Linked DNA regions of Homo sapiens: region 1 is linked to region 2. Evidence: fine-mapped expression QTL. A gene starts in region 2. The other region holds a variant in brackets. All regions are shown on one strand. Distances are from middle to middle.

Evidence for each region.
Region 1: its variant is fine-mapped to the expression of TMEM238L in nasal epithelium (TOPMed, PIP above 0.99).

What each region holds. Positions count from the first base shown.
Region 1 is chr17:10,768,645-10,783,982 of GRCh38, reverse strand. All of the region lies in intron 1 of TMEM220-AS1 (TMEM220 antisense RNA 1), which reads right to left. Among named protein-coding and RNA genes, the nearest start is that of TMEM238L, 28 kb to the left of the region's middle. The variant T/C (reference allele first, on the strand shown) is at 5,877.
Region 2 is chr17:10,796,156-10,811,493 of GRCh38, reverse strand. TMEM238L (transmembrane protein 238 like) reads left to right here and starts at 7,395. Exons shown (of 2, transcript NM_001388428.1): 1 at 7,395-7,888. The coding sequence starts at 7,531. The coding sequence ends at 7,770. It overlaps TMEM220-AS1 (TMEM220 antisense RNA 1), which reads right to left. Exons shown (of 4, transcript NR_073458.1): 2 at 8,986-9,095; 3 at 5,252-5,331. RefSeq lists enhancers at 3,241-3,740, 3,741-4,242, 6,991-7,776, 11,907-12,406, 12,407-12,908.

The sequences.
Region 1 (15,338 bases), 28 kb after region 2:
ATTAACAAACAAGACATATAAAATGATAGTTTACAAAAGTGTGGAGGCTGGGCATGGTGGCTCACGCCTGTAACCCCAGCACTTTGGGAGGCTGAGGTGGGCAGATCACCTGAGGTTGGGAGTTCGAGACCAGCTTGACAAACGTGGAGAAACCCCGTCTCTACTAAAAATACAAAATTAGCCTGGCATGGTGGCGCATGCCTGTAATCCCAGCTACTTGGGAGGCTGAGGCAGGAGAATCACTTGAACCTAGGAGGTGGAGATTGCAGTGAGGCGCGATCGCGCCATTGCACTCCAGCCTGGGCAACAAGAGTGAAACTCTGTCTCAAAAAAAAAAAAAAAGTGTGGACATCAGGCAATGAAATACAGTGATAAATGAAAGATGGGAAAAAAGAGATAAGCCCAACCGTTGCCCCAGCTTATGGCATTAGAGAGTTTCTAGACCACGGTATAAGGAAGGGGAACATAAATGGAGGCTGGAAGACTCCCCGAGTTAGAAGGAAGTGATAGTCCAGAGAGAAGAAATCAGCTACGGTCTGAAGGGCAAAATATCAGATAGGAGGAGAGAGCTGCACAGACAGAAATCTGCAGAGAATTCCAAAAGATTGTTCAGCAGAGTACTGATTGGCATGTGTGTGTGAGGAAACTACCCAAGGCTGGGAAAAGAACCATGGAAACGACTGGAGGGGAGAGTGGAAGGTGTTCAGCAGGAGTAGGAAGGATGCCTGGTCCAACAAAACACTATAAAAACCCACGTGATACATGCATTAAGTGAAGTACTCAGTACTTAGTAGTGCAGAATAATTACCTCTACACTAAATGCTACTCTAGTATAGTAAGTCTAAAAACAACTCCCCACCCAAAGGATTAAACTATTTCCAAGTAATTTAACTGTGTCCCAGGACAAAGCTCCAAGATGTTTACAGAAACACAAAAATATCTAGCATCACCAAACAAGTTAAAATTCACAATGTCTGGCAACCAAAAAAAGATTACCAAGCATGCAAAGAAGCAGGAAAATGTGACCCATAATGAGAAGGAAAATCAACCACAAGAACCTGAAGCAAACTATACTCAGGTACATCATAATGAAATTGTTCAAAACAAATAAAGGGAGAAACTTGAAAGCACCAGAGAAAGACAGAAAGACATGCTACAGAGGAACACAGATAAGAATGGCAATGTATTTCTCATCAAAAACAATGTAAAAAAGAAGACAATGTAGCAATATCTTTAAAGTACTGGGGAAAAAAATGACAACCAAAATTTCTTTACCCAGCAAATATATTTTTCAAAACCAAAGGCAAAATAAAGATTTCTCAGATATTCAAAAACTAGAACAATTCATCACTAGCAGCCCCATGCTACAGAAAATAATAAAGGAATTTCCTCTGGCAGAAGTAAAATTACAGATGGAGATACAGATCTACACAAAGTAATGAAGAATAGCCAAAGGGTAACTTCTTGGATAAATACATAAGACTTTTCCTTATTATTTAAATCTCTTTAAAAGATAAGTAGATGTTTAAACAAAAATAAGAATAGTATATTGTGGTACTTATAATATATGCATAAACCCTTCTATATCTACATCTATATCTATATATACATCCTAAATAAGTGAAAACTAAATAACACACTTTTATGAATTCATGAGTCAAAGAAGAAATAAATAAGAAATTAGAGAAATTGGAAAGTATTTTGAATTAAATAAAAATGATACACAGCTTATCAAAAGTTGTAGGATGCAGCTAAAGCAATACTTAGAGGGAATTTATAGTTTGAAATGCTTATTTAGAAAATAACTTCTTGAAGAAACAACCTAGAATCTCATCTTTTAAAAAATCAGCAAAATTACTGCAAAAGAAACCCAAATGAAACAGAAGAATGGAAATCAGATCAGAGCAAAAACCAATAAATAGTCGATTAAAAAAAATAGAAGAAATCAGTGAAACCCAAAGCTGGTTCTTTGATAAGTAAAATTTGTAAACCACTAGCCAAAGTGATTAGAAAAATAAATGAGACACAAATTACCAATATTAAAAATGAGAAAAAAATAAAAAATTAAAAAATTAAAATGAGAAAGGTGACATACTGCAGATTCTGCAAATAGTAAAGGATACTAAATGAATATTATGAATAATTTCATGCCAATAAATTAGATGAATTAAATGAAATAAACAAATTATCTGGAAAATACAAACTATAAATGCTTATTCAGGAAGAAATAGGTAACTATCGATAGCAACTATCGATAATAGTAACTATTGATAGTTATCTATTGAAAATAGTTAACTATTGATAATAGATACCAGAATAGCTCTCTATATATTAAACAAATTGAATTTGCAGTTTAAAGTCTTCTGATAAAGAAAAGTTCTTTACACTGAAAACTATAAAACATTGCTGAGAGAAGTTAAATAAATGGATAAATAAATAAATAAATAAATAAATGAAGAGACATATGATATTCATGTGTCAGAAGGTTTAATACTTTTGAGATTTAATGCTCTCCAAATTGATATATAGATTCAAACAATTCCAATAAAAATCTCAGCAGGGTTTTTTAAAGAAATTGACATGTTCATTCTAAAATTCACATGGAAATACAAAAAGGTAGTACTACCTGATTTCATGACTCATTATAAAGCTGTATTAAATAGGATCATATGATATTGGCATTAAGAAAGAAAATTAGGTTAATTCAACAGAATAACAGTCCAACAATAGATCCACACATATTTGGAAAACTGATTTTTTACAAAGATGCAAAGGTAATTCAGTCAAAAAAGACAGTCCTTTCAATAATTGATATTGAAATAAGTATATATCTACATTTTTAAAAACGAACTTTGATTTATACCTAACACCAAATACAAAAATTAACTCAAAAAGAATCAAACACCTAAATGTAAAACCAAAAATATGAAACTTCTAAAAGAATAGCAGAAAATCTTTGTGAACTGGGATTAGGCAAGAAGTGGTTGAATGACATCCAAAGCATAATCCACAAGAGAAAAAAAATGATGAATTTGACTTCATCAAAATTAAAATTTCATTTAAAGTGTCTCTGCAAAAGTCTCTGTTAAGAGACTCAGGAGTTTGAGCCCAGCGTGGGCAACATGGTAAAAACCCATCTCTACAAAAAAATACACAAATTAGCCGGGCCTGGTTGCATGCATCTGTAGTCTCAGCTGCTTGGGTGGATGAGGTGGGAGAAGGATCACTTGAGCCCAGGAAGTCTAGGCTTCAGTGGATTATAATCATGCCACTGCACTTGAGCTTGGGCAGCAGAGCAAGACCCTGTCTCAAAAAAACAACAAAAAAAGAATGAAAGAGGAGATATCACTACAGATCCTGCAGACCTGAAAAAGGTAGTAAGATAATATGAAATACTATGAAGAACTCTATGGACATCAATTTGATAATTTAGAGGAAATGAACTAACTCCTTAAAAGCCAAAAGTGACCACAACTCATCCAAGTTTAAATAGATGATGTGAATCACCTTTTTTTTTTTTTAATTAAATTTGTGGCTAAAAACTGCTTTAAAAGGAAATCCTGGGTCAGCTGCGGTGGCTCACGCCTGTAATCCCAGCACTTTGGGAGGCTGAGATGGGTGGATTACAAGATCAAGAGATCGAGGCCACCCTAGCCAACATGGTGAAACCCTGTTTCTACTAAAAATACAAAAAATTAGCCAGATGTAGTGGTGGGCACCTGTAATCCCAGCTATTCAGGAGGCTGAAGCAGGAGAATCGCTTGAACCCGGGAGGCAAAGGTTGCAGTGAGCCCAGATTGCGCCATTGCACTCCAGCCTGGGCAACAAGAGCAAAACTCCGTCTCAAAAAATAAAAGTAAAAAAATAAAGAAAGAACTCTCAACATTCATTAATAAGAAAACAATGACAACAACAACAAAATAATTTTAAAATGGGCAAAAGAGTTGAACAAACCTTTTAACAAAATACACCATATGGAAGGTGAATATGTTTAACATCATTCACCATTAGAGAAATGCAAATAAAAGCCACTCCGAGATATCACTACATGCTTGTTAGAATAACTACAATAGAAAATACTAGCAGTATGTGTGATCCAAGGGGTAACCAGAGCTCTCATTCAATGCTGGTGGAAACAGAAAATGGTACAGCCACTCTGGAAACCAGTTTGACAACTTCTTATAAAGTTAAACAGATATATTCCTTACCAGATGACCCAGGAATACCAGTCCTGCACATGTACTCCAGACAAATGAAAAGTTATGTCCACACAAAAACACCAACGTTTATAGCAGTTCTGCTCACAATTGCCCAAAACTGAAAATTCAATTGTGAATCAATAAACACACTGTGGTACATCCATACCATAAAATACTACTCAGCAAGGAAAATGAATGAGTTCTTGATACTTGAAGTAACTTGGATGAATCTCAAAGGCACTAAGATGAGTGAAAGAAGTCAGTTTCATACCGTATGATTACAGAACATGTTTGAAAAGACAAATCTATAATGATGTAGAACCTCTCAGTGCTTGCTGGGGCTTAGGGTTGGGGTGGTGATATGATCACAAAGGAATAGCAGGGGAGAGGTTTTTGGGGTGATGGAATTCTCTGCATGCCGATTATAGTGGTGTTTAAACATATCTATGCATGGATTACAAGTCATAGAACTATACATTCTCTGAAAGAATGTCAACTTTATTAGATGTTAATTTTTAAAATAAAATAAATTAAAAACTCAAGTTGTTTAGATTTTGTATTCCCTGAACTCTGCAAAAGGGTCTCTACATGTGGGCCACAGCAAAACGTCTTTGAAATATGCTTTGTCTCCCATCTATTTACACCGTCTGCTTGTAAACCTGTCTCACACTTCATTTTCAAATCCCTCTATCTGGTGCTAAGGGGAATTAGGGGACTAGGAGCCTCCCACAATCTCATCCCTTCATTCATTCTTCAATATTGACAATAGGCATGCCCAATGTCAAATGCAGTTTCAAGTTCCTCACTGTCAACTTTTCCAGCCTCCCACACTTTCCATATGGAGATCTGGAGCAGGCTACTGTCCCCAGCCTCCCCTTCTCTCCTGTATCTTCAGTCTGCACAAGTTCAAAAGAATCCTTCTGGGGAAGCAGGACCTACAGTGGGTGTTGGGGGACAGTGGGCTAAGCCAGCATCCTCTTCAGACAGCATAGGGAGAGCAGGATTTAGAAATCCACCTTAATGTGGAATGCGTGCATCCAAATGAGTCCTTCTAACAGCCAAACTGAGGCTGGGCGCAGTGGCTCACGCCTGTAATCCTAGCACTTTGGAAGGCTAAGCGGGTGGATCACCTGAGATCAGGAGTTCGAGACCAGCCTGGCCAACATGGCGAAACCCTGTCTCTACTAAAAATACAAAAATTAGCTGGGCATGGTGGTGGGCGCCTATAATCCCAGCTACTTGGGAGGCTGAGGAAGGAGAATCGCTTGAACCCGGGAGGTGGAGCTTGCAGTGAGCTGACGTCGCACCACTGAACTCCAGCCTGGCGACAGAGCGAGACTCCATCTCAAAAAAAAAAAGCTCTAAGATGATTTTACCAGGCAGTCAGATTTAAGGAGCTTCCCTAGGTCAGGGGTCAGCAAAACTTTTCCATAAAAAGCTGCATATTAAACATTTTAAGCCTTGCAGGCCACATACAGTCTCTATCACTACTTCTTTTTTTTCCTTGTCCTCTCCCTCATTCTCCTCTTCTCCTCCTCCTCCCCATCTTTCTTCGCCTTGTTCTCCTTTTCTCCTTCTCCTTCTTCCTCTTTCACAATCTTTTTAAAAATGTTAAAATCTATTGTTATCTCATGGGCAGTACAAAAGCAGGCATAGTTTGCCGACCTCACCCTCAGT[T/C]AACAATTCTCTGACATTAGTCTTTGGACCAGAGATGAGCAGACTTGGTGGAGAGCAGGTAAACAGGCTCTCAAAAACAAAAGCCCTGGCCGGGTGCGGTGGCTTATGCCTGTAATCCCAGCACTTTGGGAGGCCAAGGTGGGCAGATCACGAGGTCAGGAGTTTCAGATCGGCCTGGCCAACATGGTGAAACCTGTCTCTACTAAAAATACAAAAAAATTAGCTGGGCATGGTGACATGGGCCTGTAGTCCTAGCTACTCGGGAGGCTGAGGCAGGAGAATCGCTTGAACCTGGGAGGTGGAGGTTGTGCTGAGCTGAAATCACACCACTACACTCCAGCCTGGGCAACAAAGCGAGACTCCATCTAAAAAAAAAAAAACGCCCTGATTTGTAACATTTGCTGATATCGTGGTGTAAATACTCCCACCGTGCTCAATTTCAAACTACCAATGTGTTGTTATTGGACACAGAGTTGGCAGAAAATGCTCAGAAACGGCTGTCACCAGCCAGTGCCAGCTGCCTCCTGCACATCACTGTAATGAAATCACCTGGGAAGCTGATTAACAATACACCCCTGGAAATTCTGGTGCTGCCAAGTAGGGGAAATACTGTCCTTGGTTGCATGAGGAAAAAATAAATTGATAGAATCATTCTCCAAATGCTTGTACAAGGCACTGCGCTAAACTTTGGGGATCCAAAGGTGTATAACATACGTCGCCAACCTCAAGGAGGGCGTAGTCTAAAGGAGGAGACTTCACAAACAAACAGGCATCCACAGGATTAAAGGAGACTGTGACAAATAGGCTCAGGCACTATGGCAGCCAGAAGGAGCGGCACTTACCTTGAGCTTGCAGTCAGGGAAAGATTTGTTTAGGGAAATGACACGACTTAGATATAAGAAAAAAAAAAAGATTGTGTGACCAACCATCCATGCTAGAGCATTCTCTCTTATTATTATTATTATTATTATTATTTTGAGATGGAGTTTCACTCTTGTTGCTCAGGCTGGAGTGCAATGGTGCGGTCTTGGCTCACTGCAATCTCCACCTCCCAGGTTCAAGCGACTCTCCTGCCTCAGCCTCCCAAGTAGCTGGGATTACAGGCACCCACCACCATGCCAGGCTAATTTTCATATTTTTAGTGGAGACGGGGTTTCGCCATGTTGGCCAGGCTGGTCTCGAACTCCTGACCTCAGGTGATCCGCCCACCTTGGCTTCCCAGAGTGCTGGGATTACAGGTGTGAGCCACCATGCCCGGTGAGCATTTTCTAAAAATCCCACCTGGGGGTCATCTGACTCTCTTTTATGCAATGTACCTTTATTTGATACATTCTTGGCAAGGGCCTAGACATAAAATAAAAAGTTAACTTGTATAAAATTGATAAAGCCCTTTTTTTTTTCTGTCCAAGAAAGAAGTGTAAAGATAAAAACTGACACTGAGACTTTCTAATTCCGGTATCATGGCATTCTTCCTCTTTTTTTTTTTTTTTTTTTTGAGACAGAGTCTTACTGTGTCATTCAGGCTGGAGTGCAGTGGCATGATCTCGGCTCACTGCTATCATTGCATTCTTTATCTACTACAGCTAGAAAAAAAACTAAGCAAAAATAACAAGATCTCCCTGCCTGGCTCAGGTCACCTGCATCACAAAACCTTGGCTATTTCCCACAAACCTAGACTCTTTTTTAACAAAATCATCTTTTCCTTGAATTTTGCTATGCTGATATCTGAAGATTTGCTGTGACCTTTGGGATTATGAGGATGATATGAGAAATATGTTTTTCACCATGAAAAGGTTAATGTAAACTTTATGAGTTGGTCATTTTGCAGGTTTTTTTTTCTTCAAATGCTCGTTGTGTTTTGTATTTGGCAAGCCAGCCCTTCTGAAAAGGCTGACTCCTTGATGCTCGTTAAAGATAAAAGTTTTCTTTAATTTCCTAAATGCCACCATCTATGAGTCTTTGAGATAACTCCAAAGGTTACTTTTTATTGCCTGGTTAGGTATTAACCAGTTTTACACTGAATTTTGCAGTCTTATTTCAGCATTCTTTTTCCTTTTGCTGTATAAATCCCAGTTCCTCATATCTTCAATGAACTTGTTTTTTTTTTTTTTTCCTGCTGATTCTCTCACGTATCAGTCAGCCTCAGCTGTGTAACAAAGTATTCCAAAACTGAGTGGCTTAAAACAAGAAGCCTTTCTTTACTGATGATTTTGTGTGCTGGGAAGTTCTTCTGGTTGGGGTAGTTAATGTCTGCTGGTCTGCTTACACATCTATAATTAACTGGCAGGACACTTGGAAACTCCGTGGTCTAAAATGCCCTCACCTGTATAAGGGACAACGAGTCCCTGTGTCTCTCATCATCTGGCAGGCAGGCCTGTGGTTTTTATCTGCTACTTGCTGGGTTCCAAGAACAAGAGCAAGAGTAAGCAACAACATGCAAGTACTTTTTGAGTGTCGGCCCATATTTTATTTGTCATGTCCCACGGGTCAAGGCAAGTCATATGGGCAAGCAGGGTGGGAAGTTGCAGACACAGGGAGGTGTGGATAAACTGAGGACCATTACTGTAACAGCTCACCACACCTCACTCATGAGTTGAATAAAAGTCTGGCGTGTGCTAACAAAATACTTTGAGAATTATGCATTTACAGGATGAAGAGATGACCAAAAGGAACCCTATAAAAAGAAAGGAGTGGGGAAAATGAAGGGACAGTGAAGGGAAGGGTGTTCCCAGCAGCAGGGATTGCAAGTGCAAAGTCCTAGAAATGGGGTGGGCCACACCTGCTCCAGAAAGCTGCTCACTATGGCTGGAATGAAAAGAAAAGCAAATACACCTTGATTTAAAACTTGGGTTTTTTTTTTTTGATACAGAGTTTCACTCTTGTCACCCAGCCTAGAGTACAGTGGCGCAATCTCGGCTCACTGCAACCTCCACCTCTTGTGTTCAAGAGATTCTGCTGACTCAGCCTCCCGAGTAGCTGGGATTACAGGCACCCGCCACCACACCCAGCTAATTTTTTTGTATTTTTTTAGTAGAAACAGGGTTTCACCATGTTGGCCAGGCTGGTCTCGAACTCCTGACCTCAGATGATCCACCTGCCTCGCCCTCCCAAAGTGCTGGGATTACAGGCATGAGCCACCGCACCCAGCCAAAACTTGGGTTTTATTCAGATTTGCTTTTATTTAAACACAAAGAAGTAGACCATTAGTGGCCAGACCATTGCAATATGAAACTTAAAAGGTTGTGAGATTAAGACCTGCCTGCCTTAAAAAAGGAAGATCTGGTCTTTGGTGATTTCAGGTCAGGTCTAAGGGGCCATGATGGTCTACAATGAAAGAACAAAGCCAGGTGTGATAGTGCGTGCCTGTATTCTCAGCTACTCGGGAGGCTGAAGTGGGAGAAGTTCTTGAGCCCAGGAGTTCGAGGTTGCAGTGAACCGTGATTGTGCCACTGCATTCCAGCCTGGGTGACAGAGCGAGACCCTGTCTCAAGAAAAAGAAAGAGGCCAGGCACGGTGGTTCACGCCTGTAATCCCAGCACTTTGGGAGGCCAAGGCTGGCGGATCACGAGGTCAGGAGATCGAGACCATCCTGGCTAACAGGGTGAAACTCCGTCTCTACTAAAAATACAAAAAAAAAAAAAAAAATAGCCAGGCACGGTGGCATGTGCCTGTAGTCCCAGCTACTCAGGAGGCTGAAGCAGGAGAATCACTTGAACCTGGGAGGCAGAGGTTGCCATGAGCTGATATTGTGCCACTGCACTCCAGTCTGGGCAACAGAGCAAGACTCTGTCTCAAAAAAAAAAAAAAAAGAGAGACAGAGAAAGAAAAAAAGAGAAAGAAAGAAGGAGAGAAGTAGAAAGACTTGCCCCTGGAGAAAGGAAGAATTTCTCAGAAATGGAAAAGGAGACTCCAGAAAGAAGGAAAGAGAGAAAGGCAGGTGTTATGAGAATGGATTGACAGGGAGCTGGGTCAAGATTCCATAGAATTTGCTCAAGAAGGGGAAGGGTATGCAGCTGGGAAGAAGTGAGGGTAGAGGGAAAGGGTGAAGAGGACCTGACAAAAGATGGCAGTCAAGGATCTTGTTCCAGAGTCCAGAAACTACATGGGGTCCTGTCTACACTGGGTCACCACACAAGCTCTTCCTCCCACTGGGGTCCATGAGGACTTTGCTTTGACAGCATCTGGCATTTAGCAATTTGCCCAGGGTCTTCCTTCCTTGGTTTCTGAGCACCTCACCTGGAAAACCCACTCTCCATATTCCCATAAAGCTACAAGAAAGGATAGCTGGGGACCTGGTCTGCTTGCGTGACCGTAGGGTGAAAGAAGTCCCCTCCTTCTAATCCTTTTCTCTAAGGCCTGAAGGAGTGAAGGTAAGATGGTATTGAGTCAGCTAAGGTACCCCAAGCTCCCTGCTTTTAGAAGATTTTATACGAGAACATGAACCAGCTCAAACATCCAGTCTTGTCCCCAGAGGCATTCATTGTTCATCATTTCATGTGCATTGTTCCAAAAAGTTTGTATTTATAGCAACTGACCCATAACATTGGCAACTGTGTATTTCAGATGTGTTTTCAAATACTTAGAAAAAGAGAAGAAAAAAACAAACAAACAAACAAATGACCTAGACTCAGAAGAAAACTGGGTAGCAGTCCCCGGGTTGGTTCTATGAAAATATTGAGTAATTTTATGCAAAATAACTTGTACCCAGGGGTGAGTTTCAAAGGCAGGGGAATGAATGATTTGGCTTAGTTGTCAAAGTCACGCTTCCCTAATTGCAGAAAGAAAAAGTGTCAGTCAGCTTTTACAATTACCCTCCTTGACATCTACATCCGGCTTTCCTGATCACAGAAAGGAAAGAAAGCTAAAGTGGCTTGCAAAGAATGGGCCCCTGGGAGCAGAAAATGAGATTCTCTCCTTAAAAGCAAGAGGGAGGGAGGAGCAGAGAAGGCCAGATTGACAGAAAGAGCAGCTCAAGAGCTAATTAAGTCTGCAGAGGAGCCAGATAGGCCTCCTCCCTGGTTCATTGCCAGCAACCAAAGCTGTTTGATGTTTCTCTGAAATCTGAGTGGGCAAGCCCAGCTTCAGGCCCAAGAAGGATTTTTACTACAAAGGCCAGAAGAATCAAGAGAGGTGGAACATAGGAAGGGAACTTGGGCAGAATGAAAACCACCATCTGACTGCACAGAGATAGTGTGAGAAAGGCATTTACACTCTCACCTTAATATCTAAATGGTTATTTTAGTAAATTATTTTACTTTTATTTTTTTAAATACCATGTCTCACTCTGCTGCCCAAGCTGGAATGCAGTGGCATGATCATAGCTCACTGCAGCTTCAAACTCCAGGACTCAAGGATCCTCCTTGCATACAGCTGGGGACAAACAAGAGCGAGCCACTGAGCCCTGCCAAACTATTTTAACCAAAGGGAACAGGAAATTGTCGTCAAATGAGATCTTTGCCATCCATGCCATGAATCGGGCACCCCCTAGTGTCAGCTTCTGGAATTACAAGCATAGGCGTTCTTGGCTTTGCCTGGTCTTGGGAAAACTAAATCAGAGTAGCAGGATGTGCTCCTCGGTTTTTCTTTCACTACGATCTTGCTGTAATTGTACGCCCATCTCTGGCCCCATTTTTTGGGTCTCTACAAGGGGCTAACACAAATAATGCTAATAATATTTTCTTGCGTTCTTGTATCCTTTCAGAATGCACAAAGCCCTTTCACACATTTGACCTTACAACCATGCAGGAAGCACATCCATGTGGATAATGCAATTATCTGCATCCTACCAAAGAAAAAAAAATTAAGGGACCAGAAAGACAAAGTGGCCTGTTCAAGGTCAAAGGCAACTTAATGATGGAGCCAGTAACAAAACCTCCAGGTCTCAAGTTTAGTGTGGTTCCCCCTAATCCTCACTAAAGGGTTTCAGAACACACCTTACATTGGTTGCAATTAGAGTTACCTGTCAAGCTTCAGAAACATACCAGTGCCCTGGTCCCACATCTGGAGACTCTGATTTAACTGGTGTGCTGTGATACCCACACACGAGTATTTTATAAAGCTCTCCAGATGGGACTAATGTGCAGCCAGGGTTGAAAACCACTGTTAGAGAAATAAAACAGAAGGACAGAAAGCAATTATGCTTACATCTCAGAGAGCTAAATTGCCACTAAAACACCAGGCACACCAGAGATCATCTCGACTGCCATGGACAAAGAACCCAGAACTGCCCCTCAGATCCCCATTTATTCAACTCACAGAGACACGAAGATAAGCACACAAAGACACACATGGACACACAAACACACAGATACACAGAGACACACACAGAAACACACATAGCCATAGACACACACAGCCGACAACTTCATAATATACGAGGAACACAGCCTGCTTTCCTGGACTAGGACTCTCCCTCCTATAATCCACACCCAAACCTAAACGGGAGTGCCTCAGGTTCCTACTCTTCCACTCCAGGACTAAAGATCTCCTTCGTGTTTGTTGAACACTATTCATCACACTTGTCAGATATCAGAATTCAGGAAAATCTCCCAAACCTAAGTCTATTCCCTGCTCTCTCTGATCAGAGGAATGAAACACCCAGAATGATCTCAGGTCAACCAGCACATGTCACTCAGGAAAATGCTCCCCCTGAGTTGTCCACACAGAAAACTGGAGCAACTGGATTTACAGAACTTCAAGTTTCACTTGTGCAAGTCACACAACATTTTCTTTGGCAAAGACTGGGTTAAATTCAAGTCTACAGTCAGACACCTGCCTTCCTCCCCAGACCTGTCTGGCCAGACCCCTGGCCTAGCTGGAGCAGGCTCTGGCCATACCTGCATTGAAGCCAGTGATGCTGGGGCTAAGGAAGGTAGCCGTATGTCCAAATTCAGGCTTACCTCCACACTCGAGGCTAGGATGGCACCAGCATCAAGGCTGCAGGTCCCCTGGGCATGAATGTCAGACATCCATGCATCCATTCAATAAATACTCATCAAGCACTCACTATGTGCCAGACACTGGGTGCATAGTAGCAGACCAAAGACACAATTATGGGAGTTCCATTCTGGTTGAATGGAAAGACAGAAAACAAGATAAATAACAGTACACACACACACACACACATACACACACTCCAGCTAGTGATTAATGCTAAGAAAAAAAGCAAGAAAAAGCAAGATGAAGAGTTGGAATTTAAGGCCGAGCAGCAGAGGAGGTGTTGTCTGAGTAAAGGTGGTTAGGAGGCGGTATGCCAACATCTGGGCAAAGAATGGGGACAGGAGATGCAAAGATCCTGAGGTGGCAGCTGGAGGCCAGGGAGGGCTTCACCCCACACCACTCTCTTAGAGGGCCTCACCCATACCCCAGCTCTGAGTGGCCAAGGGTTGAAGAAAGAATCCAAGCTCAGAAAATCCCTCCCCATCCATCTTCCTCACCCAGAATGGAAAGATGGATTCGGGGCCTGGTACTCCTGGCAGTGACCCACGTTTGCTGATCCCCAACATCCAGACCCAGTGACAATTTTTAAGTTCACCCTGGCTAGAACATAGAGGAAGGGACCAACCGCTGGCCAGGACCAGCATGACTAACTAGGCCTGGGGTAGAAACAGATGCTTTGAGGTAGATGAACCTCGTAGTGAAAGAAGTCAGACACAAAAGGCCACATAGTGTATGAAATGTCCAGAATAGGCAAATCCATAGAAACAGAACACAGATTCATGGTTGCGGATGGGAGGAATGGAGAGTAATTGCTTAAGGGGTGTGGAGTCTCCATTAGGGGTGATGAAATTGTCTTGAAACCAGATAGAGCTCATGGTTGCTGCGGCTGATGCAGAGTTATGGCCTCATGGGAAAATATAGGCCCAGCTCTGCACCCTCGGACAGTGAGCAGCGGGCAGGGGTGGCCGAGAGCAGCAGTGGTGACTGGTTGGCCTGGCTTCCCAGGCACAAGGAGTGGGACTATGTCTTTTGGGCAGCAAGGAGTCTCCAGCCACATGCCCCAGGAGCAGAGGCTGTTCCTCTCCTGTTCCAATGCCTGCTTAAACTGACCTTTCAAGACAACTAGGAAAACGCCAGCCTGCTGAGTACTGGTGTCAAATGCAGGCCAGATTCTCTCTAGGGACAGCGCCCACTTGGGAGCCAGCCTTTGCCAGAGATCAAAGGAAGGTACTGAAGGTACTGAAGGGAGGAAGGAAAGCCAGGATGGTGATAAGCCTAAGAAGCTTTCTTTCTAAGAGGAAAGGCCAGAAGAACAGCGAGGTCTTAGCCAAGACAAGGTGAAAGTTCAGGGAGATCATGAGTGACATCTTCGACCATCAAGACACCAGAAAGAAACCAGATTAATTCCACATGACACCCAGACAATAGAATTAGGACAAGTGAATGGAAATTAAAGAGTGGAGGTTTTACTCAACACTAAGAAAAACACTCTGGGTGGGTGCAGTGACTCACACCTGTAATCCCAACACTTTGGGAGGCCGAGGTGGGAGAAGCACCTGAGACCAGGAGTTCAAGACCAGCCTGGGTAATACAGCAAGACCCCATCTCTACAAAAAATAAAAAATAAATTAGCCAAGTGTGGAGGTACATCCCTGTAGTCCTAGCTACTCGAGAGACTGGGGCAGGAGGATCACTTGAGACCAGCAGTGTGAGGTTACAGTGGGTTATGATAGCACCACCATACTCCAGCCTGGGCAACGAAGCAAAATCCTGGCTCTAAAAACAAAAACAAAGCAACAACAACAACAAACATGTTCTAGAATCTTAATATCTGTGAGCAGGGAGGCAGCTAGCCCATGCAGTACCCCTGTAGGAAAAAGGAAATGGTGCTCTCCGGGCAAGACCACTTACAAAAAGGCACCTCTTCAGGCTAACACAGCCCTTAGCTCTGGACCAAGTGAGCCCAGAGCCTGTGCTGAGCAACAACCTGGGTGGGCAGCCCTGTGTGTGAGCATAATGGGCTGTACTGGAAACAATGAATTCAGGATATTCCAGTTACTATGGCTGCATAACAAACTATGCCAAAACTCAGTGGCTTAAAACAATAACATCATTTATTTTGCTCAGAAATCTGCAGACTGGACAGGGCTCAGCAGGGATAGGTTGTCTGTGCTCACTCAGCATAAGCTGGGACAGCTTGCAGGCTGAGGCCTGAAGTCATGTGAAGGCTCTCTCTCACGCATCTGGTGGTTGATGCTGGCTGATGGCTGAGATTCAAGCTGGCGTGCCTGCCAGAGCACTCACAGATGCTTCTCCATGTCACCTGGGCTTCCTTCCAACATGGTGGCTGGTGTTCCATAGGTAAGTGGCTCAAAATAGAAAGAGCCAGGTGGAAGCTGTGTTGCCTTTTAGGATTTGTCTTGGAAGTCACATGATATCTTTCTTGCCATAGTCTAACCACTGAGGCAGTCTTAAGGGGAAGGGAAATAGACTCCACCTTTAAACTGAGAGAGTGACCGGCTC
Region 2 (15,338 bases):
TTAAAAGGTAGAACATTCTGACACATGCTACAACACGGATGAACCTTGAGGACTCTATGCTAAGAAAAAGAAGCCAGTTACCAAAGGACAAGTATAGTATGATTTCAATTACATGAGGTAGGTAGAGTAGTCAAACTCACAGAGACAGAAAGCAGAATGGTGGTTGCAGGGGCTTATGGGAAGGCAGTCTGGGGGGTTAGTATGTAATGTGCACAGAGCTTCATTTCAGGACAATAAAAATGTTCTGGAGGTGGATGGTGGCGATAGTGGCACAATGCGAATGCACTTAATGCCACTGAACTGTACACTTAAAAATGGTTAAGGCAGCAAATTGTTAGTCACATACATTTTCTACAATGAAAATAAATAATTTTTAATTAAAAACTTAATTAAAGGCCAGGCACAGTGGCTCATGCCTTAATCTCAGCACTTTAGGAGGCCGAGGCAGGTGACTCAACTGAAGTCGGGTGTTTGAGACCAGCCTGACCCATATGGTGAAATCCTATCTCTACTAAAAATACAAAAATTAGCCAGGTGTGGTGGCGTGTGCCTGTAATCCCAGCTACTTGGGAGGCTGAGGCAGGAGAATCTCTTGAACCCAAGAGGCGGAGGTTGCAGTGAGCCAAGATCGTGCTACTGCACTCCAGCCTGGCCTGGGCAGTAGAGTGAGACTCCGTCTCAAAAAAAAAAATTAATTAAATGGGAATAAGAAAGAAACTAACTTGATTATCTGAGGATTTGGGAAACAACTGACACAAGGGTGGGGAAGAGGAAAGGGAGAAGAGTTGGTATTTGTATTTAATGCCCATGAGACGACAAGACCAGGTTCTAATTGCAGCTCTGTTACCTACTTGCTGGCTGAACCTAGGCAACTCTCTTAACGGCTTTCAACTCTGGAAGAGGAACAGGGCTGCAGGGAGGACAAGGAGATGCTGGATGTAGATCGATGTCCATTGTACATAAAGTGCAACACAAATGCATGGAAATACTATTATTATCTGCTGAAAGGGGGCAAGGTTACCAACCTGCGGAGAAGGAAGGTGATGAGCAGCAAGGAGGTGGTAATGGGAGGATGCTTTTGAGATGTGGACAGGAGTCATGAAGGTTTAGGTCAGCCCAGTAGGGAATAAGATAGGAAAACCAGAAAAGAGGGCTAGAGTTTCCTGAGCTGGAGGGAGGGTCCTCGAGCATGGATTACAGAGGTCCAGGCAGCGCACTTTGGGGAATTCTTATAAGACCCTGTGGGTAGCCTAACAGAGGAGGAATGAAGAGCTCTGAAAATTGTCAGGGGTCACTAAGATAAGAGCGAATACATTTCTGAAAATACTGACCCTAAGTCCCACACTGAGAAAAAGGAGGAGTAAATGAAGATTGATTGGGGAGCATTGATCAGGGTCAACATTTTTCCAGATTCTGGCACTATATCCCTGGCAGTATGGGAAGGGATTTCAGTTGGCAGACAGGCTCACATTAAAAGGCATAGCCATTTCAATTTTCATTCAATCTTTCCTATGACTTCCAGGACAAAGCCACTGGTTGGTGCTATTATGTTTTATGTACCTCTCTAAACTTTGTGAGTCTTGGGTCTTTATTTGAGAAAGAGAGCAATTTCAGTAGGCAACAATGTCTAGTTTGGAAATCAGCAAATCTGACCTGCTGCCTGGTTTTGTAAATAAAGGTGTTTTGTTTTGTTTGGTTTGGTTTGGTTTGGTTGGAGATGGAGTCTCCGTCTGTCATCCAGGCTGTAGTGCAGTGGTGCGATCTCGGCTTATTGCAACCTCCACCTCCCTGGTTCAAGCGATTCTCCTGCCTCAGCCTCTTGAATAGCTGGGACTACAGGCATGGGCAACCACACCCAGTTATTTTTTGTATTTTTAGTAGACAAGGTTTCACCATGTTGGACAGGCTGGTTTCAAACTCCTGACCTCAGGTGATCTGCCCACCTCAGCCTCCCAAAGTGCTGGGATTACAGCAAAGTTTTATTGGAATGCAGCCACACTCATTCATTTACATATCATCTCTGGCTCTTTCACCATGCAGTAGTCTGTTTTCATACTGCTATAAAGACATACCCAAGCCTGGGTAATTTATAAAGGAAAGAGGTTTAATTGACTCACAGCTCAGCATGGCTGGGGAGGCCTCAGGAAACTTACAATCATGGTGGAAGGGAAAGGGGAAGCAAGGCACCTTCTTCACAAGGTGGCAGGAAGGAGAAGTGCCCAGCAAAGGGGGATGAGCCCCTTAGATCTCGTGAGAACTCACTATTACAAGAACAGCATGGGGGAAACTACCCCAATGATCCAATTACCTCTACCTGGTCTCTCCCTTGACAGTTGGGGATAATGAGAATTATGTGGATTATAATTTGAAATGAGACTTGGGTCGGGACACAAAGCCAAACCATATCACACTACAATGGCAGTGTTGAATGGCTGTAACGGAGACCAACAAGATTGCCTGCAAAGCCCGAAACATTTACTATCTGGCCCAATACAGAAAGAGTTTGAGTACCCCTGGTCTGATTTAATTACAATTGTTTTGTGTTCAGTATATTTATTCCCAAGTACTTTCTGTCTAAGTCACACCAGTTTTTCACTGATGGTGACAATAACTGATTGCAGTTTTAACAAATCCATTTTTTTTTTTTGAGACGGAGTCTTGCTCTGTCGCCCAAGCTGGAGTGCAGTGGCACAATCTCAGCTCACTGCAAGCTCCGCATCCCAGGTTCACGCCATTCTCCTGCCTCAGCCCCCCGAGTAGCTGGGACTACAGGCACCCGCCACTATGCCCGGCTAATTTTTTTTGTATTTTTTTAGTAGAGACAACAAATCCATTTTTAAAAATTAACAAAATAATATAGCATTAACAAACGAATGTAATATTCTATAAGTAAGAGACACAAATTGCAGGGAATGGTACACTTAAACAATAAGTGAAGCTTGATAAACACTGGATTACGAGATTAGGGGGCGTTGAGGGATTTGAGGATGGTGAAGATAAAGAGCCACTTTGGTAGAGGTAAGGGATCTGAAAGATAAAATGGATCTGGGAAGAGGAGTTCATGAAAATAAAGGATTTGTACCCATCGAAGAATGGTGAGACAGCACTGCACGTCCTAATAGATTTAGTGAGGGTAGTATGGGGAGGCCAAGGGCCAGGCAGCTGCTACCAAGTGAAGCCCAGGTTGGTAAAGGGGAGAAAATGATGGTGCCAGAGAGTCATGGATGGATGCCTTCCAACCTGGGTTTTTCCTTACATAAGCATCATGGCAGAAATGTAAAGATTCCCAGCGGCAACCACAACAATAACACTTGTCCCTGTTTACAGAGTGCGGGTTCTAAACACTTCACACCCATGCACTCACTTACGCCTCACAGTAATCCTATGAGGAAATTGAGGCACAGAGAGGGTAAGTGACTTGCTCAAGGTCACACAGCAAGTGAGTGGCACAGCTAGGCACTCTACTAAGCTCTGCACCATGAAAAGGTAGGCAGACCTAATGAACAGGCCGGCATGGCTAGACCCACCCAACATCTGAGCCTGCCACCCAGGATGTGACTGGGCCTTTGTCATTCATGGAGTCAGGTCTGGGATCTGTGACGCTGGGTCAGCTGAGCACCTAGCTAGTCCATCCTGGTGTCAGTTGCCTGCCCTTTAGGATCCAGGTCATGGAGAGGCTGTCATCTGGTGACATCACGGATGACAAATCATGATGACTTTGCCAAGGGAGTGACAACGTCTCAGTTGCCGAGAAGAGGCGGAGCTGTGAGACAGCAGCAGAAAGACAAACCTCTCAGAGGCACAGGGGTGGCTGCAGCCCCAACAGCCCAGCAAAATCGCAGAAGGAGAGAGGCAGAGGGGCCCTCAGTGACCAAATTGGAAGTTGCAGGCCAGGGGCTAGGCGTCCACCTGTGCCTTCCACACCATGTTATGGTTCAGAAAGCAAATGTCCAGAGGAGTGTAACAGATGCCTACTGTCTTATACTTCCCTGTTTTTGCGATTTTTTTCTGAAATTATTAAATTGCAATATAATCTGAAATTATACCATTCATGTGTTAATTATTGCCTCCACTCTTAGCATCTTATGTCTGTGATGTTAGGTCAAGATCAAGATCATACTTGATCTTGATCCTGCTGCCTGACCCATAGTAGGTGCTAATAATATTGGTTCAATTTAAATCCCACTTCAGCTCAAACTTCAAAATGTGTAGGGGTCACTTAGGGTTACCCACTCGTGGAGAATGAGCACCTTGGCTTGGTGAATAGAGGTGACAGCAGCCAGAACCCAAGCAGGGTGAGAAGACCCCACCTTCTCAGCCTCTCGCCCAGGGACACAGACATAGCCAACAGCACCTCCGTGTCCCCAGGAGAGACAGGGAGGGGTTGAAGCAGTGCCTGCTGGCATGGAGGGCCACCTTCAATGGGGTGCTGACTTTGCAATTATGTTTTTTCTGAAAACTTGGCTTGAGAGTCTAAATTTTCTATCTATACTACAGCTAGAAATCAAAGGATGTCCAAATAAACAAACAAACCTTTTAGGTATTGCTATGGGCTGTGGTTGAATTCTGTCCTCCCAATTCATATGCTGAAATCCTAACCCCCAGTAACTCAGAATGGGACTTTATTTCGAAGTAGGATCTTTGCAGATCTAATTAGTTAGGATGAGTTCATACTGGAGCAGGATGGTGCTTCTTATAACAGGGGAGATGTGGACACAGACATGCGCACATGCGCACAGGGAGAACGCCATGTGAAGATAAAGGCGGAGATCAAAGTGGTGCATCTACAAGGCAAGGAACGTCACAGATGGCCAGCAAACCACCCAGAGCTAGGGCTGAGGCCTGGACCCCATTCTCCCTCACAGCCCTCAAGGGAACCAACCCTGGAGACACCTTGATCTCAAGACTTCCAGGATCCAGAACTGGGAGATGATACATTTCTATTGTTCAAGCCACCCTGGCTGTGGTGCTTTGTTACAGCAGCCCTGGCAAAGCATGCAGCTATTTCCAGCTGTGGATCCAGCCTTGGCAAGTGAGGAAGTCACAAAGGATCTCCGTGAGAAGAAGAGGGTGGTGGTGTTCTTCTTGCTAACGGGGGTGCAGCAAACTGCTCTCTGATCACCTGCCCCTCGTCCACGCCTGCCTCCGCCCAGGCAGTTTCTGGTTCCCACACTTGGAGCCACCCTCCTTACTCACTTTCATCTCCCTTCTTTTCTTTCTAGCCTGCCCCCCTCCAGGGCTCCAGACTCACCTGGCTTTGCATCAAACGTCCCAGTAGGTCTCTCCCAGCTGTGCAAATACCGAGGCTGCCTCAACACACAGGAGTGGTAACTTTGGGAAACAAGAGTAAGAAAGATACACAGGGGCAGAGGTGGAGGGGCACTTCACAGCCTGGCCAGTCACCTGGAGTGGGGCCATGGTTAGCGATTTGCCAGAATGGCCAGGTATTATGAGAGAGAACGCAGACCGCGGAACTGAGAGTATGATGTGGCCCAGTTAGATGGGACTACATTGACCAACCATGCCAGTTGACCCAGAAACAAAGGATTTTCCAGCATGCAGAAATTTTAGTGCTAAATTGTTGTCCATGGTGGACTAGAGCCACACACACAGGACTCTGCAAAGGGACCTGGGAACCTGTATATGGCTAGACCAGGACTCATTAGCCCAGCCCTGTGCAGACACAGCAGCAGTGCTTGTCCTGGCACTGGGAAGAGGCCATTGCTGTCCATCAATAGTTTTTCCCAAGAGACTCTCTCCTACAGGGGGAACAAAAAATTGAAAGAGTCATGGCTTCCCCAGCAATGTGAGGTGTTTCTGTAGGTACCTGGCCCCTTCCGAGGACCTAGTGGGACAGGAGGCAAGTACTGAGATGGAGATTGGCCTCAGCTACTTCCCACTTTGAGGTGTCCAGAGTGTTCACCTGGCTTGGCTCAAGTCTCGTGGCGTTTCAGATCCTAAGAGCTATGGTTTAGGTCATCCCCTGCCACCTTCCCCAAAATATTTTCTGAAAGTTTCTTTCTCATCCTGGCTTATTTTACACATAGAAAAATGAAGGCCGGGCATAGTGGCTCATGCCTGTAATCCCAGCACTTTGGGAGGCGGAGGCGGGCGGATCACCTGAGGTCAGAGTTCGAGACCAGCCTGGCCAAGTAGAGTTTGAAACCCCATCTCTAATACAAATACAAAAATTAGCCAGGCATGGTCATGGGCACCTGTAATCCCAGCTATTCCAGAGGCTGAGGTGGGAAAATTGCTTGAACTTGGGAGGCAGAAGTTGCAGTGAGCCAAGATCGCACCATTGCACTCCAGCCGGGGCAACAAGAATGAAACTCTGTCTCAAAAAAAAAAGGAAATCAGATCCACCTACTTATTCTCACCCTCTGGGGAAGGCAAAAGTGAGAGTGGAAATTATTTTCTTCATTTATCTGGGTAAACTGAGGCCCAGAAAGGTTTGGTGCCCTGTTCTAGCCTCCCTGTGAATCAGGGACAGAGGGGTGGCTGTCTGCAGCCCTGCCAAGGACTGCCGCTGCATTTTCCTCATTTGATGTTCACCCCCACACCCGCCGTGAGCAGCCACGGGGATAAGATCGCTCCCATCAATGTAGAAGGGATGCAGGCAGTGTCTGGAAGGGCTTACAGGGTCATCTATTATGAGAAAGAAAATGAACATAAAATGAGTTCATGTAGAAAACACAGAGGCAACAGGCCCCGGAAACATCCCTTGACTTTTGCCTGGGAATTGCCCTTTGGTCCACACAGAATCCACTGCAGGAAGAGGCCAGAAGTTTCTTCTCACCCTGTTGTCTTCTCTCTGTCCCCTCTGTCTTTTCCATCTCTACCCCTTTCCCGCCCTTATCCTTACTGTCCATTATCCTAGGGAACTCAGATCCTTCCGTCTGCAGAGTGAGGGCTCTACAAGAAGGCAAAACTTCTCTTGCTAACATGGACCAATTCTTACAGCAACGCTTCAAAATCGATTGATCTTACAAACTCTTGTCTATGTCCTTTACATAAAACCTTTTCCCCCAAGGAAGAGAGTAGGGCAGGGAGGTGAAGAGGAATGGAAACTCCACCACTCCACCCCGCTATACTAGATGAAGCAGCTGTGTCTCAGAAACAGGGCACTCAGGCTCTCTGGCTTCCAGGGATTAGAGAACAAGGCACAGATCAGCCCCTCCCCCAGAATCACAGGACCGCCAACTTGGCAGATGCATCCAAGGGCACCCTGACTCCTCTGCCACATGGATTGTAGGTCCCAGCGATGAGCAGCCCAATTAACAGTGATGTCAGACTGTTTGGGTCCAGATCATTCCTGAGCCATGAAACAGTTAAGAAATATCCTGCCCCACTGGCTGCCGTGCTCATAAAGGTAGACCCACGTGTACTTCCCTGTGGCTCCAAGAAGCGCCAGCTCGCTCATTTGCTCACACCCAGCAGGCAGAGAAGGCAGCAGCAGGCAGGACCGCCACCCTCCCATGCAAATCACCCCCGGGAGTGCAGCTGGGCTCCTCCCGCTCCTCCTGGGCAATGCTCCTGGGGAGTCTGTGGGGAAGATGCCATCCAGGGCGCTGTGCGCTCTTCCTCATCCTCGCCCTCCTGCTGGACGCGGTCGGCCTGGTCCTTTTGCTGCTGGGGATCTTGGCCCCCCTGAGTTCCTGGGACTTCTTCATCTACACAGGTGCCCTGATCCTGGCTCTCAGCCTACTGCTCTGGATCATCTGGTATTCCCTCAACATTGAGGTGTCTCCTGAAAAACTGGACCTGTAATTTGGCCATGGGAAGAGGAGAAGAGACGCAGGTGCTGTATGCAGACATGTCTGTGAACCTGGGGCTCTTGGGCAGCAACACGTTGCAGCTTCCACCTAGCAAGCCACGCCGGGACCAGGTGAGTGCACACAAGACCTACCTGGCAGGGTGGCCAGAGAGGCTTGGACAAGCAGGGGCAAGACCAGGCCTCCTGAGGCTGCATAAGCAAATAGCCAGACACTGCACCCTGACTGGGGATCCTGTGGCCCTGGCCTCAGGTCCTGCTGGGGTGGCCAGCCAAGAGGACGTGGGGCAGGTGTTTTCTCCTCCGGGCCCTTTTCCTCGCAGAGGCTGGAAAGAGAGTCTCAACAGCCCCTTCCACCCCTGATATACCACGAATGATCCTGGCTTCTGGGCACAATGGGAAGTTATCCCTTTACCTCGGAACTTGGGGACAAAAAGACCCCATCTGCATTCTCTGTTGGGAAGAATCTCTGCTGGGGAGAAAAGTCTTTAGCACAGGAGAGGACGGAAAGTTCCCCAATGACTCTTGTGCCCTTGCATACATGAAGGGGTGTGAACTGGGCCACGGTAAAAGCAAACAGAGCAGAACCACCCAGAACGGCCCCTCTCGTTCACTTCCTCCCTGCACCTGCCCAGATGGGATACAAGAAGCGGGGTAGGGACTACTCGCCTCCATGCCCACTCAGTGCACACACCTCCTCTCTCTGCAGTATTCCCACCCCACCCTCACTCACACTCACACGCAGCCAACACATGTGCCCAGCCAGTCTCCAAGGCCCAGAAGTCAAGACAGTTTGGCTTCATGGATTTCATCCGCTGAGTTGCATGTCACAGCTCAGTCTATCGCGTGCAACCAAAGAGGCAGAGAGTTGTAAGATTTTTTCACATCAAGACAGAGTCCCAGAGATAGAGTGGTCTGGTCCTTACAACCCTGAATTAGAGATGGACAGCTGTCTCCAGGGGACTGAAGTCAGAGCCACGGTCCATTGGGCAGCCATACCCTCCTCCCCAGGTGGGCCCAACCTGCACGCAGGTGTATCCAGGCACTCCCGTTTCTTACTCCCTTACCAGAAGTAAGAGCAAAGGTCGTTGCTGAGTTGAAAGAAGGAAATAATAATTGTGTCTTTTGTGGGGGATTACACCTGACTCTCAGAACTCAGAGAAAAGAGAAGCAAAATGAAGAGGTCTCAGTAGAGTAAGGTAAGCCCATACCTAGGAAATGATGTAGAAACAGATGAGAAGTCAGTCCCACTCTGATCTTCAGCACTTGTTAGCTGGGTGTTTTTGGCCAGGTTGCACACTCTGAGCCTCAGGATTCTCATCTGTAAGATGAAGAGAATATTTCTGGCCCTTATTGCTGCAAGGATCGAAAAGAGATAAGGCAGGGAAAGGCTGTACAATTGATGTGGTTCTTACACCAGATGTCAAGCATACAAAACACATAATCTGGGATGAGTTAACTGACCCAAAGTCCAAATGTGAAGTACCTTGGTGTCTCTCAAATTGGTAGTGATGGGGGTCAACTCACACTTTGCATCAGGAAACTTCAGAGCAAAAAGGGTCCCTGATTTGTGTGCTGGTATGTTGGAATGTGTCAGGCACTGTGCAAGACACTGGGGATAAGAAATGAGACACATGGACCAGGCACAGTGACTCATGCCTGTAATCCCAGCACTTTGGGAGGCCGAGGCGGGCAGATCACTTGAGGTCAGGAGTTCAAGACCAGCCTTGGCAACATGGTGAAACCCCATCTCCACCAAAAATACAAAAAATTAGCCACGCATGGTGATGCACACCTGTAATCCCAGCTATTCAGGAGGTTGAGGCAGAAGGATTGCTGGAGCCCAGGAGGCACAGGCTGCAGTGAGCAGAGATTGCACCACTGCATTCCAACCTGGGCGGCAGAGTGAGACCTGTCTCAATTAAAAAAAAAAAAAGACACATGACGTGGGGGCTCTACTCTCAGGGAGTTTACCATCAGGTGAGAAAGACAGACACTCACCAAAGATTCACACTTACAAAAGTACAATAACAAAGTCAGGTCTGCTCTAGGAAGGAGAGGAGCATCCTGCCACAAGAATATTCAATAGAGAAACTGACTCAGAAGATGGAGTCAGGGAAAGCTTCCTGGAGGAGGTGATATTATGCTGAATGCCAAAGGAAGAGTGGGAGGTGAATGGAAAGTCTTTCAGGGAGAGGCAATGGCTTGGGCAAAGGTCCTGGGATAACAGGAAATAAAAGACGACAGGGAGATTGAAGGGCAGAGAGCAAATGTCGGTGAGGGTTAGGGCTCTGTGGTAGACAGAGGCCAGATCTGGCAGGGCCTCGAGGGCCCTCTGAAGGATTTTGGTCATTACTTGAAGAACAATAAGAATCCACTGAGGGCTGGGTGCTGTGGCTCACACCTGTAATCCCAGCACTTTGGGAGGCCGAGGTGGGCAGATCACGAGGTCAGGAGATCGAGACCACAGTGAAACCCTGTCTCTACTAAAAATACAAAAAATTAGCCGGGCGCAGTGGCAGGCGCCTGTAATCCCAGCTACTTGGGAGGCTGAGGCAGGAGAATGGCGTGAACCCGGGAGGCGGAGCTTGCAGTGAGCCGAGATCGCACCACTGCACTCCAGCCTGGGTGACAGAGCGAGACTCCGTCTCAAAAAAAAAAAAAAACAGTAAAAAGGAATCCATTGAAGAGATATAAGCAGAGGCAGGGGCTTAACATAATTGGACCTGTGTTTCCAAGAGACCACCCCGGCCACAGTATAGGTTATTATGGTTATGATTATTACCGGCTGAAACCCATTTGGGGAGCCAAGACAAGTACCCAAACAACACAGAGTCCCCAGTGTGAGGCTCCGTGCCCTGAACAGCCTTCCCTCATTGAACAGAAGTTCAATAGCCCGGCGTTGAAGAGCATGGGCCATACCTAGACTCTGGCTTGAATCCAGTTTTATTCCTTTCTAGCAACGTGACTTGGGGCAAGTTACTTCACCTCTCCGTGCCCCATTACTCCAAATATGTAAAATGGAGATGGTGCTAATAATAGCCACTACGTCATAAAGATGTTGCCCAGATTAGGTGGATTAATATTTGTTCAGCACTATGCAAGTGATGACTAAATAAAGCGTCAGTCACGATGCAGGTAGCCAGCACATTACAGAGGGTGAGGCCCTGACGCATTACGATCAGTTCTAATGGCAATGTACAACATTAGGATTTTTCAGTAGATATGAGACTGAATGCTGCTCCAGAATGCTAGAGTTTTGTCCTGGTTCAAAGAAACTTTAGAAGTTTTAATATGTTCTTTATTGTATTCTTTACTGCATCTCCATCCCCTGACACATTTCAGGGATGGCCCAGAGTGACAGATTCGTGTGTGCTGAGTCCTGCTGTTCAGGACGTTGCTCACTTATGGGGCTGCCCAACCCTCCTCCACCCCATGGCCTTGGGCGAATCATTTTACTTCCCTTTAGAGTTAAAGATGTGGTTTCCGGCCAGGCCTGGTGGCTCACGCCTGTAATCCCAGCACTTTGGGAGGCTGAGGCGGGCGGATCACGAGGTCAGGAGATCGAAACCATCCTGGCTAACACGGTGAAACCCTGTCTCTACTAAAAATACACAAAAATTAGCCGGGCATGGTGGCGGGTGCCTGTAGTCCCAGCTACTTGGGAGGCTGAGGCAGGAGAATGGCGTGGACCCGGGAGGCGGAGCTTGCAGTGAGCCGAGATCACGCCACTGCACTCCAGCCTGGGCGACAGAGCCAGACTCCGTCTCAAAAAAAAAAAAAAAGATGTGGTTTCCAAGGGAGGTTTCAAACTGTGTTCTGCCAATGTCCCTGGAAGGGAATTGGGCCTGGGGTGAGGGGCAGAGTGAGGGGACAGGAGTCCAGCAGCCCTACCCACCCCGTAACACACATTTCACCCAGAACAGTGGAGCTCTCAGCAGCTTTGCACATTAAACTGGCACGTAAGACTTTACATGAACACAAGTTTCTGATGCCAAAAAATATTTGAAAAGCAGCTCGTCTCACTTCCCCTACAGCCTACGACCTTTGGCCTATATGTCAATTCCAGACACATTCACGATTTACGGGCAGATTGTAACTGGCTTTGCCAGCTCTCTCATTCTCAGAGCGGGGTAAAAGGAAAGAATGTGGGCTCCCTGCATTCAGAGCTGATGCCCACATTCCTAGCTCAGCCTTCAGAGGCTCTGTAAGATGAGGTTGAGGCCGGGCATGATAGCTCATGCCTGTCATCCCAGCACTTTTGAAGGCCAAGGCCAGAGGATCACTTGAGGCCAGAAGTTGGAGACCAGCCTGGCCAACATAGTGAAACCCCGTCTCTACTAAAAATACAAAAAATAGCCAGGCATTGTGGCATGTGCCTGTAACCCCAGCTACTTGGGAGGCTGAGGCAGAAGAATAGCTTGAACCTGAGAGGCGGAGATTGCAGTGGGCCAAGATCGTGCCACTGCACTCCAGCCTGGGCGGCAGAGCAAGACTCCATCCCCCAAAAAATAAAAAATTAAAAAATGAGTTTGATAGGACCTGCCCCCACCCTGCCCCAGAGATGAGGAGGTCCCATGCTCGGTCAGGACAAGGCAGGGGCCTGGCTGCCCCACAAGCCTTCTGCCCACAGCCTGCGTGGTTCTCCAGAGAGAGGGCAGGGTGGCTGCTAAACCTCAAAGGCACCCCCAGGAAGTTTCAGGGCGAGTGGCTGATTTTTATAGATCAACTGTGCTCCAAGAGAGACAAGCTGCCGTTTGATTTTATCACCTGGTCACTGTATTTTCAGATTTTTTTTTTTGCTCCATTTTCCACTTCTTGGTTATTTCCTGCAGATAAAGATAAGTCCCCAAGCAAAGTCAGATGAAGACTCTTGTCCTTTTTTAATAGGGTGTCCAAGACTACACACCCAAACAATACACACACACCAACACCCCACACACGTACACACACATCCCTCTTCTACTCCACGTGTTCATGCACACACAAACACGCCCCCCACACACTCACACCTACCACACACATCCAGAAACACACACTCACAGAAACAAACACACCCACCACACACTCACACCTACCAAACACACACCCAGAAACACACACTCACAGAAACAAACACACCCACTCTCACACCAACCAAAGCCAAAAGGCTAACAGCCTTGAGCCTTGGAAAATGAAACTTGTTCCTCCACTTCGACTTTTTCCAACAGGCAGCCTCTCCCCTCTGCCCACAGAGGAGGCCAGTGGAGCTGCCAAGTCAGCTCAAAGGTGAGCCTGGTAAAAAGCCCTCCTCTCCTGCTCAATGAATCTGTGCCCCATGCAGACATGGTGCCAGGGCTGTGTGGAGGAGCAAACATTTCTCTAATCTCTCCAGGGATTTTTAATCTAAGGGGAGAGATAAAGCATGTGCACGATACTTCACAAAGTTTCCAAGGGAAAATGCATTGCAGGAGATAAGCACAGTCTTGCCAGGGCTCTGAAAGCTGAGAGGAGGCACAGAACCTCCTGGCTGGGGGAAGCGTGCTGTGTGTGGTTCTGGCTGGGCTGCTAAGGAACAGGTAAGAATGTGACAAGTAGAGATGGCACAGGGACAGCAGCCGTGGGTGGTGGGTAGGGGGCAGTCCAGGCAAAAGGAAGGACTGCAGAAATGAAAGAATTAGGGTGTCTAGGAAAAGCTAAGCAGGCACATTTGCCTGGGGGTTGGAGTCTTCAGTGCCGGCTGTGCAGGACTTTGAACACCAGGTGAGGAGTCTGACACTAGGAGAGGAGGGAGGAGTCTTCAGTGGTGTTAGATACTAGAGAGCAACATGATCAAGCTTTGCCTGTAGAAGAGTAACTGAGCATCGTGTGCAGAATGGATGAGAGAGAAGCAGCAGAGAGACAGCAAGGCCATTCAGCAAGCTCAGGTGGCAGGTAATAAAAGGGTTCAAGCTGAAATGATGGCCACGGAGGGGAGGGGAGAAGAGCAGAGACTGCATGAGTGGAGAACGGCCTGTCCTGTTCTACAGCAGATCGGGGGTGGCATTGTCAAAGCCTTCAGAAAGCGCCCCTGGGGCATGGAATGAGGGAGGTCAGAAAAAGGCATGAGTTTGTTTAAAATGATTCATTTTCTTTTGAACATGCAGAGTTTGATATGCAAATCGTATACGAGCAGAACTACCTAATTGGCATTGAATGTGCAGATTTTAAACTCAGAAGAAAGATCAGATGTGGAGGGAGAGGTTAGGGGTTAGAGACATGTGGATGAGATTACAGAGGGTGAGGATGTAGAGAGAAAAGGGATTGGGAGAGTGAGGAAGGAAGGAAGGAAGGAAGGGAGGGAGGGAGGGAGGGAGGGAAGGAGGGAGGGTGAGAGGGAAGGAAAGGGGGGAGGAAGAAAGGAGAAAAGAACACTAAGATTCACTGAACCAGGCCCTAGGGTTGCACATTATCCCATTTCACCCTATCAACAAGGCCATGAGGAAAGTAGTATTATCATCATAATCATTATTATTCCTCTCTATTACAGATAACGATAATAAGGTGTATGGAGGTTAAGTAACTTGCCCAGCATAATGGAACTAGGCAGTGATCGAGCCAGATTGTAAAACCAGGTATATCTGACCCTGTGGTTTATGCTCTTTCCATAAGACCAGGGGTAGGCAACTACAACCTATGGGCCAAATCTGGCCCACCTCCTGTTCTTGTAGATAGTGTTTTATTGGAACACAGACTGGCTCGTTCACTCTCATATTATCTATGGCTGTTTCATGTTATAGTGGCAGGGTCGAGCAATGGTAACAGAGACTATGTGGCCTGCAGAGCCTATGACATTTACTACCTGGCCCTTTACAGAAAACATTTGCCAGCCCCTGGCCTAGTCACGTATGTTTCCTATAGGAGCCAAGTCAGAACCTTGATCCATGCCTGCATGTGGGGAACGGGAAAAGGAAAGCAGATGGAAGAGCCCAAATGGAAGTTCCCAGTAATAATAAGGAAGAGACGTTATGCCAATGGCAAAGAGGACAAAGAAGGACAATTATCAAGAGTGAGGGGAATTGACCATCAAACACTTCAAAGCCATCAAAAAAAGGCTGAAGCCTAAGGAAAGGCAGTTAGGCAGACCCAGCAATGTGCCTTTCTCAGTAAATGGTGGAGACAGAAATCAGATGATGCTACTTATCGGGTGGCTGAAGATGGGTGAGGAGTGAGTGCAGATTCATCTTCAAAGTATTTGGTGATGAGATTAAGAGGGTAGGGCAGTCACCTGCTGGCATAACCGTGCTAAGGTGGGAATTCTTAGAGAAGGGATATAGAACATTGAGCAAGACGGTAAGTGGAGGAGAGAAAGTCAGCAGAGAGGAAAAGAGGATGCTGACGTGATAGACGAAGATGAACCTGTGATCACATCCAAGGTGGAGGTTGAGGCAGAATCCAGAGAGCAGAGAGAGGTAGGCATCGGCTTTGCCTGCAAGGAAGGGTAAGGAGAGGAAACTAAGATTTGATGAGAATCTTGATATTTATTAAGCCAATCACTTATTTTCATGATCTCATTCAGTGCTTACAACTCTGTGAGTGCGGGATT